2 separate regions of the Homo sapiens genome follow, and region 2 is linked to region 1. Evidence: fine-mapped expression QTL. Tissue or cell type: whole blood. Region 1 holds a variant in brackets; the other region holds the start of a gene. All regions are shown on one strand. Distances are from middle to middle.

Evidence for each region. PIP is the estimated chance that this variant, and not a neighbour inherited with it, causes the effect.
Region 2: it holds the start of ACOT4, and the variant in region 1 is fine-mapped to the expression of ACOT4 in whole blood (TOPMed, PIP 0.96).

What each region holds. Positions count from the first base shown.
Region 1 is chr14:73,491,862-73,497,006 of GRCh38, reverse strand. It overlaps HEATR4 (HEAT repeat containing 4), which reads left to right. Exons shown (of 18, transcript NM_001220484.1): 15 at 328-406; 16 at 1,620-1,779; 17 at 3,883-3,941. RIOX1 (ribosomal oxygenase 1) reads right to left here. Exons shown (of 1, transcript NM_024644.5): 1 at 3,613-5,145. The coding sequence ends at 4,064. It also overlaps a transcript of ACOT1 not described here. Among named protein-coding and RNA genes, the nearest start is that of RIOX1, 3.5 kb to the right of the region's middle. RefSeq lists an enhancer at 4,609-5,109. The variant G/T (reference allele first, on the strand shown) is at 2,841.
Region 2 is chr14:73,588,928-73,594,072 of GRCh38, reverse strand. ACOT4 (acyl-CoA thioesterase 4) reads right to left here and starts at 2,200. Exons shown (of 3, transcript NM_152331.4): 1 at 1,657-2,200; 2 at 169-371. The coding sequence starts at 2,113. It also overlaps a transcript of HEATR4 not described here. RefSeq lists a silencer at 1,586-1,655 and an enhancer at 1,467-1,966.

The sequences.
Region 1 (5,145 bases):
GGAGAATCGCTTGAACCTGGGAGGTGGAGGTTGCAGTGAGCCGAGACGAGATCGTGCCATTGCACTCCAGCTCTGGGAAACAGAGCAAGACTCCATCTCGCAAAAACAAAAAGTAAACAAAAAACCCACAAATATATTGTCTCAAAAACTGCACATTATTCCTGTAAGCTAAGCATTATACCATTTTTGCATATAAGGCTCAGCAAAACTGCACAGTTAGGATTGGAACTTGGGATTCTTACCTGATTCCAAGTCCTATATTTTCTACCCCCATACTTTTTTAAAGGGCAGGGTAGAATAATCTAAGAAGCCCTTCTTATCTTTCAGAGAAATGTACCAGACAATGAAGATACTCAACTTAGGAAATGAAGGAAACCAAGAAATGCTTCAGGAGATCAAGAACAGGGTAAATAAGTGCAAGCTCTGTTCTCAAGAGAAAATTCAGGACTCTCAAGAGTTCCTCAGACCCTGTCCTCCTCAAACATGTACATACCCTTTTTCCCACCATAGAAGTACTTTCTAAAACCCCAGACACAGATGCCACATCATTTGAAGATGCAAAGCATCTGTGCAAGATTGGGTTACAAGGTCCTACTAGTAAAGACAAAAACAAAACAAAAATCCTATTAGTCCTATCAAGTAACCCTCATTGTTTCAGAAATACTATTTCCCTCCCTTCCTATTTTCTCCCCATCAACCCCAAACCCAAGTTGTTTATTTTTCCTTTTTTTCAAATAGGCATAGAGAAGGAATAAGGGACTAGAGCTGGCCCCCTAGATTTTCTTCTTAATTTTTCTGAATTCCTAATCTGGGTTTTCTCACCAAAGAAAATCTCTAGCTGAAAGGATTAACATAATTTTTGCTTTTTTTTTTGAGGGGGGGACAGTCTCGCTCTGTCGCCCAGGCTGGAGTGCAGTGGTGTGATCTTGGCTCACTGCAACCTCCACCTCCTGGGTTCAAGTGATTCTCGTGCCTCAGCCACCAAAATAGCTGGGATTATAGGCATGTGCCACCACACCCAACTAATTTTTTTGTATTTTTAGTGGAGACAAGGTTTTGCTATGTTGGCCAGGCTGGTCTTGAACTCCTGGCCTCAAGTGATCCACCCGCCTCAGCCTCCCAAAGTGCTGGGATTACAGGCATGAGCCATCATGCCTGGCCTGGATTGTTCTAATTTTTCAAAGCTGTTAGATAAGATGAAGGAATAGAGGGGAAAGGACTTTAAAAAGGTAATTCAAGAAACCAACTTCACATCAAGCAAGCAATTCTTAGCAGGTTCATCATGCCCAAAAAGCTGAAGTAAAATTTTCACGAACAGGTATAAAAAATCTCCAACCAATATCATAAGAGAACAATGTTCTCAGGCACTTATGTACCACCTACTACTGATAAGCATATGCAATTAGTTACTTCTTTATTTTCTAGAGACAGGGTCTCACTTTGTTGCCCAGGCTGGAGTGCAGTGGCATGATCACAGCTCACTGTAGCCTTGAACTGTTGGGCTCAAGTGATCCTCCCTCCTCAGCCTCCTACAATCACTTTATTAATGTTTTTTGATAATTTGCTGCCTAGTACAGGTGTTTTGTTTTGTTTTTCAAACATTATTTGTTCTAATTTAGATTAAAACACTAAGCCAAAAGGACTTGCTGACACACAAAATACTCAAGCTGGAGATGGTCATGGGAAAAGTGAGGGAGGAAGCAAAACGTGTTTACTTGAAACCCAAAGGAGAACAAGGACCACTAACACTCCAGACTTTACTCCAAGAAACTTTTCAGGGTAGGTTTCCTAGGGGTGAGTTCCATGCCTTGATTCCTTTAATAAGCCTCTTCCAGGATCTGGATGTTTTGGGACTTAGTAGCAAGCCTTAGAGGATGAAAGAGTCAGGAAAGGGTACTCTCTTCCCTCTTGGCTACCATCCACTCAGTCTTTGTGTTTTTTTTTTGTTTGTTTGTTTCTCGGGTTTTTATTCATTTATTTTCTCCCTTAAAAAAAAGTTATCTCTATTTGAACTGACTTAAAAGTTAGGTCAAAAAAGGACATATCAGAAAAACACAAGTCTTTATAAAACAATACTACCATGTATGTTTGACTAAGCACTCAAAAAAGCTTTATGAGCTTAACCTTAATAGTGGTAGTGGTTGGTGGTTGGGCGTGGTGGCGCACACCTGGACTCTCAGTGCTTTGGGAGGCCATGGTGGGAGGATCACCCCAGGCCAGGAGTTCAAAACCAGTCTGGGCAACATAGCAAGACCCCTCCATCTCTACAAAAAAATAAATAAATAAAAATTATCTGGGTGTGGTGGCACACACTGGTAGTCCTATCTACTAAGGAGGCTGAGATGGGAGGATTGCTTGAGCCCAGGAGGTTGAGGCTGCAGTAACCCAATATCTCACCACTGTACCCCAGCCTGGGCAACAAAGTGGGACCCTGTCTCAAACAAAAAAACAAACAAACAAAAAATAGTGCTTGTCTCTGGAAAGTGGGGTTGGAGGGAGAACTATCATTTTTACTTAGTGTATGTCTATGCTTTTGTAACTTTTTTAAAAAGAATTTGTAAAGTTCTCAACCTTAAATAACAGAAAACTATCCATTATGGTGACAGACTCTTAAGAGTCCCAGACGCAACCTAAATGATGAGGGTGCAGAAATCAAACTGTACCAAAATATACTTACAAAATCTGTGTGCCTGAGCGTAGCATCAGCCTCAGGTCACTCAGCCAGCTGCCTACCAGCTACCACCCCAAACCCAGGTCTTCTGGTTCCAAGTCCAGTGCTCTTTCTGGTACATCAGGCACTTTTCCACCAACCATGAGAATATTCACTTGTCAGATTTGGG[G/T]AAGTTTCTTCGAACTGCCAGAATAAAAATGAGAGTGGAAAGTAACTTGAACAGTAGCCTTCCTTCATGGCCAGCTTGCTAAAAGTTGGTTGCCTAAGGTCTATGAAGGCACAACTAGGTGACATGCTGCCCTTATGACAGCAGTGCCAGCCATGGATGTAAGCAAACAGTGAGCAAAAACATACCATGATCTTAAAACTGAACAAGCTGGTAGAAAATAATTTTTCTACTAGAATTGGGTTGCATAATTAAATAGCATAAATTATCCCCAAAGTTAGTGAACTGGTCCCAATCAGATAAGATTCTTTTTTGTTTTTGTTTTTGTTTTTGAGACGGAGTCTCGCTCTGTTGCCCAGGCTGGAATGCAGTGGCATGATCTCAGCTCACTGCAACCTCCACCTCCCAGGTTCAAGTGATCCTCCTGCCTCAGCCCCCCTAGTAGCTGGGATTACAGGCACGCACCACTATGCCTGGCTAATTTTTGTATTCTCACTAGAGATGGGGTTTTGCCATGTTGGCCAGGCTGGTCTCAAACTGCTGACCTCAGGTGATCCACCCGCCTCGGCCTCCTAAAGTGCTAGGATTACAGGCATGAGTACCGCACCCAGCCTGAGAGTCTCTTCCTTAAGAGGTTGATTAACATGCTCCTTTTACATGCTACAACCACCCCAGGTTGCTTTTCACTTCAGCCATTATAGATTTTCCCTATCTTCCTCCCGCTCCTGCATTTCTTCGAACCATCCCACATAATAATCTAGCCTTAGGAAAGGGAAACATTCTTTGGCACTTTAATAACTTTTCTAAGGTTCATACAAATTTAACAATAACAAACAGGATACTGACCCCGACCCGCCCATGAAAAAGAACTCAGATGAAAGATCCAAATTCCAAAAAAAATCTAATATCTGTCTCAAGCAGAACGACATGGTCAGTGTTACCCAGTACACTGAAGCCTGAAGGTGATGAAGTTGGTGCTCTGAAATGATCACGGATCAAGGGTTTTTTTTCCACCTCCAACTTCTCCTTTTCCTTTTGTACCTAGATGAGATGGTTCTTCCTAGAAGACCTTCCGAGGTTTGTGACACTGAAGCAGTGATAAAGGTAAATGTGAGCACACTGATGCTTATCAAGGTAAGAACGTGAGTTTAAGGAAAAAAAAAAAAAAAAGGTAGCAGTGGCAGCGGAGAATCACTACTGCCTTGTTTCCAGCAATCAACAAGAAACTAATTTAGGGCTAGAGGCATCTTAGTGAGCAGCAGCCCCTTATCATACAACGTGGTTGCCAAGGACAGCTGGTCCTCCACACTGTCACAGGGCAGGTCCCCCACTCTCACAAACTCTGGATAAGAACCAAGCAACAGTTCCATGGCATCAGCTTGCTGGGGGTATATTTCCAAGCACTTGGGTTCTTCCAGATGATACACACGGGAGTTTTCCACTGTGTAATAGAGAAACAAATGGCCCCCCTCACCCACCAGCCGAGCTATCCCATCCTGAAGCATATGGACTTCTGTTTCTGTTGTCAACTGGGCCCCCACGTTTACAGGTTCTCCAGCCTCCCAGCGAATTGGAAGCCCGTAAACACTTAGTGCCCTCTCCCTATCAGTCAAAACAGGGGGCAGAGAATCGTGAATGAAGTCTTTGGCTCGCTGGTCGGCCACAGCATCAACAGGAGCAAAGTGTCCCAGGCGGGCAACCAAGACCCGCACCTTCTCCATGAAAGCGGTTCTTCGCGGATCCTTAGAATCTGAATGCTGGGCCCCCATGTAATCCATGAAGTCTCGGGGCAGACCCCTCCGAAACTCCACATTTTCTTCCATTGCAGCCTGCACTGCCAGAGGCAGTATGGCCTCTAAGAAGTCACCCCAGGTATTGCGCTGGTACGTGGACAAGGTGAGGTGCAGAGAGTGGACTCCATCCTGGCATTCAGCTTGGTGAATGAAGCCCCGAGGAAAATACAGCAAATCTCCAGGTTCCAGCACGGTCTGCAGCACCGGCTCACCGAGGTCGTCCTGACTGAAGTTGGGGCTGGATGTCAGAGCCAGTTCCTCGGTTGGGACTCGGGGTCGGTATACACGCCAGAGTTTCCTACCTTCCAGCTGCAGCACGAAGGCCTCGATGTCGTCGTAGTGGGGGGCAAAGCCCTGCGAGTTAGGGGGCGTGAGGTAAACGTTGGAGCCTGCCATGCTTCCAAACTGCTCTTGAAGCACAGCCAAAAACTGCCACACAGTAGTAGAGAAAGCCTGCGGACAGAGGAGACGCAGGGAGCAGCCGGCCTGGTACAGGGACCACGCGGCGGCGGGCA
Region 2 (5,145 bases), 97 kb before region 1:
CAAATTCATCTGACAGAAAAAGTGGAAATAGCACCTTAAGCCAAGGAAGTCTCCAGAAGACATCTTTGTGAAAGAGGAACAGAGCAGCATTTCTGCACGTGGTAAAGGTTACACTCTCTATGGAAATATTTCTAGAGAGACTGATTAAATAAAGGACATGAGGAGAACCTGGGGATGTTGAAGCATGTAGCATACGGCTTCTTCGAAGTACTCCAGGGATATGTTGTCCATGTTATTGGGGAGATCTTCAAAGTTATAATAAGCTAGAGCCAACGTGGCAAAGCCATGGCCAGCAAGGAGGCTGGCTCGATATTCCAAGAGGCCCCCTCCAATACCAAAGATGTCAATGATCCCTGGGAAGGGTCCAGGTCCTAGAGAACAAAATATTATAAATGTAAGCCATTATACAATTTAAAGAATTTGCTTTCCTGGCTGGACACTGTGGTTCATGCTTGTAATCTCAGCACTTTAGGAGGCCAAGGCAGGAGGATTGCTTGAGGCCAGGAGTTCAAGACCAGCCTGGACAATGTAGTGAGACCCCATCTCTACAATCTTTTTTTTTTTTTAATTAGTCAGTGTGGTGGTGTATGCCTGTAGTCCTAGCTACTTGGGAGGCAATGGAGGGAGGATCACTTGAGCCCCAGAGGTCAAGGCTGCAGTGAGGTGTGACCACACCACTGCACTCCAGCGTGGGCAACAGAGACAGACACTGTCTCAAAAAAAAAAAAAAAAAAAAGAAAGAAAGAAAAGAAAAAAGATTGAAACAAAACTTTATGTTCTGTTGCATCAGCCCTCTGGTTTTTAGTGTACTGATATTTCAGATGTCTATGTAGAAAGGGAGGAAAGAAAAAGAAATACCCAGAGATGGTTTTAGGTGAGAAAGGCAGTGGAGTCTGAAGTGTGACCTGTGATAAAGCAGCACATGAAGAAGTGGAGAAGAGACAGTGTGCCTAGAACACTAGAGAAGACGACATGGTAATAGCTTCATTCACTGTCATCATTCTGCCTTAGACAAGTCAGGCTGATGCCTGTAGAAATCTGTAGGGTAGTGATTAATAGCAAAGTGGATAATGTACCTGACGACCTGAACCTGTTTTTTCATCTGCAGAATAACAATACCAACTTCATTGGGATATTATAGAGACTAACTGATAGAATGCAAGTAAAAACCGTAGTACACAGCCTAACAAAAAATCCTTTTTTTTCTTTTTTCTTTTTTTGAGACGGAGTCTCGCTCTGTCACCCAGGCTGGAGTGCAGTGGTGCGATCTCGGCTCACTGCAACCTCCATCTCCCAGGTTCAAGCGATTCTCGTGCCTCAGCCTCCCGAGTGGCTGGGACTACAGGCGTGTGCCACCAGGCTGGACTAATTTTTGTATTTTCGGTAGAGTCAGCGTTTCACCATGCTGGCCAGTCTGGTCTCAAACTCCTGATCTCAAGTGATCCGCCCATCTCGGCCTCCCAAAGTGCTGGGATTACAGGCGTTAGTCACCACGCCCGGTACCAAACCCTCTATTTTGGTAGAGTGGCCACTGACATAGTCAATGTTAGCTTCTCTGATCTTGCTCCAAAACCAAACCAGTGCTAAATCAGCACTGGAAACAAACGGAGACTCAGGCCACTGACGCTCACACCACCCGCCAGCAGCCTGGCTCACCTGGCGGCAGGAAGAGCGTGGCGCGCACCCGGCCCGCTCGCACCGACTGGCGCCGCACCCCTGGCGGGAGGAAGTGGCGCTCGTGCTGCGCCTGGCACAGCAGCCGTCCAGGCTCGGGGTCGTGGCCGTCCAGCACCTCCAACTCCACGACAAAAGGAATCTGTACGTCCCGCTTCAGGAAGCGCCAAAAAGGCTTCTCGGGTTCCAGGGCCCAGAGCAGCCCCATGGGCTCGAGTCCCGCGAAGCTGCCGCCCAGCGCGGGTGCGCGCTCCAGGTCCAGCTCGCCGCGGGCGTCGGCGCAGTAGCGCGCGTGGGCCCGGAAGAGCGCGCCCTTCTCGTCGCGCAGGGACGCGCGCAGCGTAACCCGCTGCTCCGGGGCCAGGCCGCGCACGGCAATGCGCACCGGCTCGTTCCAGCAGCAGCGGCCTGGGGGCTCCAGGATCAGCGTTGCTGACATCTTGGAGCCGGAGCGGGGAATTCAAAGGTCGAGGCCCGAGACCCGTCCAAGATCGTGGCAAGCGCGCCGAATGTCCGGACGGCGTCCGGCGTCCCCTGGTGCCGGAAGCTGCCGGTGGCTGAGCAGTCCCAGAAAGCCCCTGGGACTTCAGACCGGTTAACCCGGCGCTCCGGACTCGTCTGAGGCAAAAGTAGCCAGGCTCCTCTTCAGGGTCGTCTCCTTGGGCCCCGGGGCGCGCAAGGTGTGGCGCCCAACCCACCCCGTAGAAAGCCTCTCTGCCTCACACCACCCTCGGTTGTTGGAATGAAAGTTGTTGGATGATCAATTTGTGGTGAAACCAAAAGCCAATGAGATCAAGCCAAATTCCAGCCTTTCATGGGCTCCATGGAAGGTTTTGTTTTTAACTTTTTTTTTTTTTGAAACAGAGTCTCCTCTGTCGCCCAGGCTGGAGTGCAGTGGCGCTTCGGCTCACTGCAATCTCCGCCTCCTGGGTTCAAGCGATTCTCCTGCCTCAGCCTCCCGAGTACCTGGGATTACAGGCGCGCGCCACCATGCCGCTAATTTTTGTATTTTTAGTAAAGAGGGAGTTACACCATGTTGGCCAGGCTGGTCTTGAACTCCTGACTTCAAGTGATCTTCCCGCCTTGGCCTCCCAAAGTGCTAGGGATTACAGGCGTGAGCCGCTGCGCCCGGCCTGCTTTTTTGTTGTATTTGAGACAGGGTCTCTCTCTGTCATCCAGGCTGCAAGGCGGTGGCTCGATCACAGGTCACTGCAGCCTCCACCTCCCAGGCTCAAGTGATCCTCCTGTCTCAGCCTTCGGAGTAGCTGTGACTACAGACAGCGCACCACCATGCCACGTTAATTTTTAAATGTTTATTTTTAGAGAGGAGGTGTCACCCTGTTTCCCAGGCTGGTCTCGAACTCCTGAGCACAAACTATCCTCCTGCCTCTGTAGTCCCAAAGTGCTAGTGATACGTGACAGCATGCTGGCTGCCCTCGCTCGCTGTCGGCGCCTCCTCGGCCTTGGCGCCCACTCTGGCCGCGCTTGAGGAGCCCTTCAGCCCGCCGCTGCACTGTGGGAGCCCCTTTCTGGGCTGGCCAAGGCCGGAGTCGGCTCCCTCAGCTTACTGGGAGGTGTGGAGGGAGAGGCGCGGGCGGGAACCGGGGCTGCCCGCGGGGCTTGCGGGCCAGCGCGAGTCCCGGGTGGGCGTGGGCTCGGCGGCCCCGCACTTGGAGCGGCCGGCCGGCCCGCAAGCCCCGGGCAGTGAGGGGCTTAGCACCTGGGGCAGCAGCTGCTGTGCTCGATTTCTCAGCGGGCCTTAGCTGCCTCCCCGCGGCGCAGGGCTCGGGACCTGCAGCCCGCCATGCCTGAGCCCCCGCCCCCGCCGTGAGCTTCTGCGCGGTCCGAGCCTCCTCAACGAGCTCCGCTCCCTGCTCCACTAACGCCCAGTCCCATCGACCGCCCAAGGGCTGAGAAGTGCGGGCGCACGGCGCGGGACTGGCAGGCAGCTCCACCTGCGAACCCCGTGCGGCATCCACTGGGTGAAGCCAGCTGGACTCCTGAGTCTGGTGGGGACTTGGAGAATCTTTATGTCTAGCTAAGGGATTGTAAACACACCAATCAGCACCCTGTGTCTAGCTCAGGGTTTGTGAATACACCAATCGGCACTCTGTATCTAGCTAATCTAGTGGGGAGGTGGAGAACTTTTGTGTCTAGCTCAGGGATTGTAAACGAACCAATCAGCACCCTGTCAAAACGGACCAATCGGCTCTCTGTAAAATGGGCCAATCAGCAGGATGTGGGTGGGGCCAGATAAGGGAATAAAAGCAGGCTGCCAGAGCTAGCAGTGGCAACTTGTTGGGGTTCTTTTCTACGTTGCGGGAAGGTTTGTTCTATTTAGTTTTGTAATAAAGGTAGCTCAGTTTTTGGGCCCGCACTGCTGTTGTGAGCTGTAACACTCATTGCGAAGGTCCGCAGCTTCACTTCTGAAGCCTACCAGACCACGAACTCACCAGGAGGAACGAACAACTCCAGACATGCCGCCTTAAGAGCTGTAACACTCACCGCAAAGGTTTGCAGCTTCACTTCTGAGCCAGCAAGACCACGAACCCACCAGAAGGAACAAACTCTGAGCACATGGGAACATCAGAAGGTACAATCTCCAGACACGCTGCCTTTAAGAACTGTAACATCTCCGCGAGGGTCTGTGGCTTCGTTGTTGAAGTCAGTGAGACCAAGACCAGTCTGGAAACACCAGGATTATAGGTGGGAGCTACCTGCCGTGCCTGGCCATACATGTCAGTTTACTTAAAAAAAGCTTTTTGATGAAATATAAGGTAGGCTAGGCACAGGGGCACACACTTGTAATCTCAGTGCTGTGGGAGGCCGAGTTGGGCGGATCGCTTGAGGTTGGGAGATCTAGACGAGCCTGTCCAACATGGTGAAACCCGCCTCCACTAACAATACAAAAATTAGTGGGGCATGGTGATGTGCACCTGTAGTCTCAGCTACCTGGGAGGCTGAGGCAGGAGAATTGCTTGAACCTGGCAGGCAGAGGTTGCAGTAAGCTGAGATCATACCACTGCACTACAGCATCGGTGACAGAGCGAAACTTTCAAAAAAAGGAAAGGGAAAAAGAAAAGAAAAAAGGGAAGGAAGAGAGAAAGCAAAAGTATTGGAGATAGTAAAAAGATCAGTAGTTGCCAGGGATTGTGGGGAGGGAGGGATGAATAGTTGGAACAATTTTTAGGGCAGTGAAGCTGTTCTGTATGATACTGTAATGGTGGATACATGTCATTATACATTTGTCCAAAACTGTAGATGTAGAACAAACGAACCCTAAAGCAAACTAGAGATTTGGGGTGATAATGGTATGTCAGTGAAGGTTAATCAATTGTAACAAATGTACCATTCTGGTGGGGGATGTTGATAGTGGAGATAAGGGAACTATGCAAGTTTTGGGGGGCACAGGGAGTATATGGGTAATCACTACCTTCTGCTCAATTTTGCTATGAACCTGAAACTGCTTTA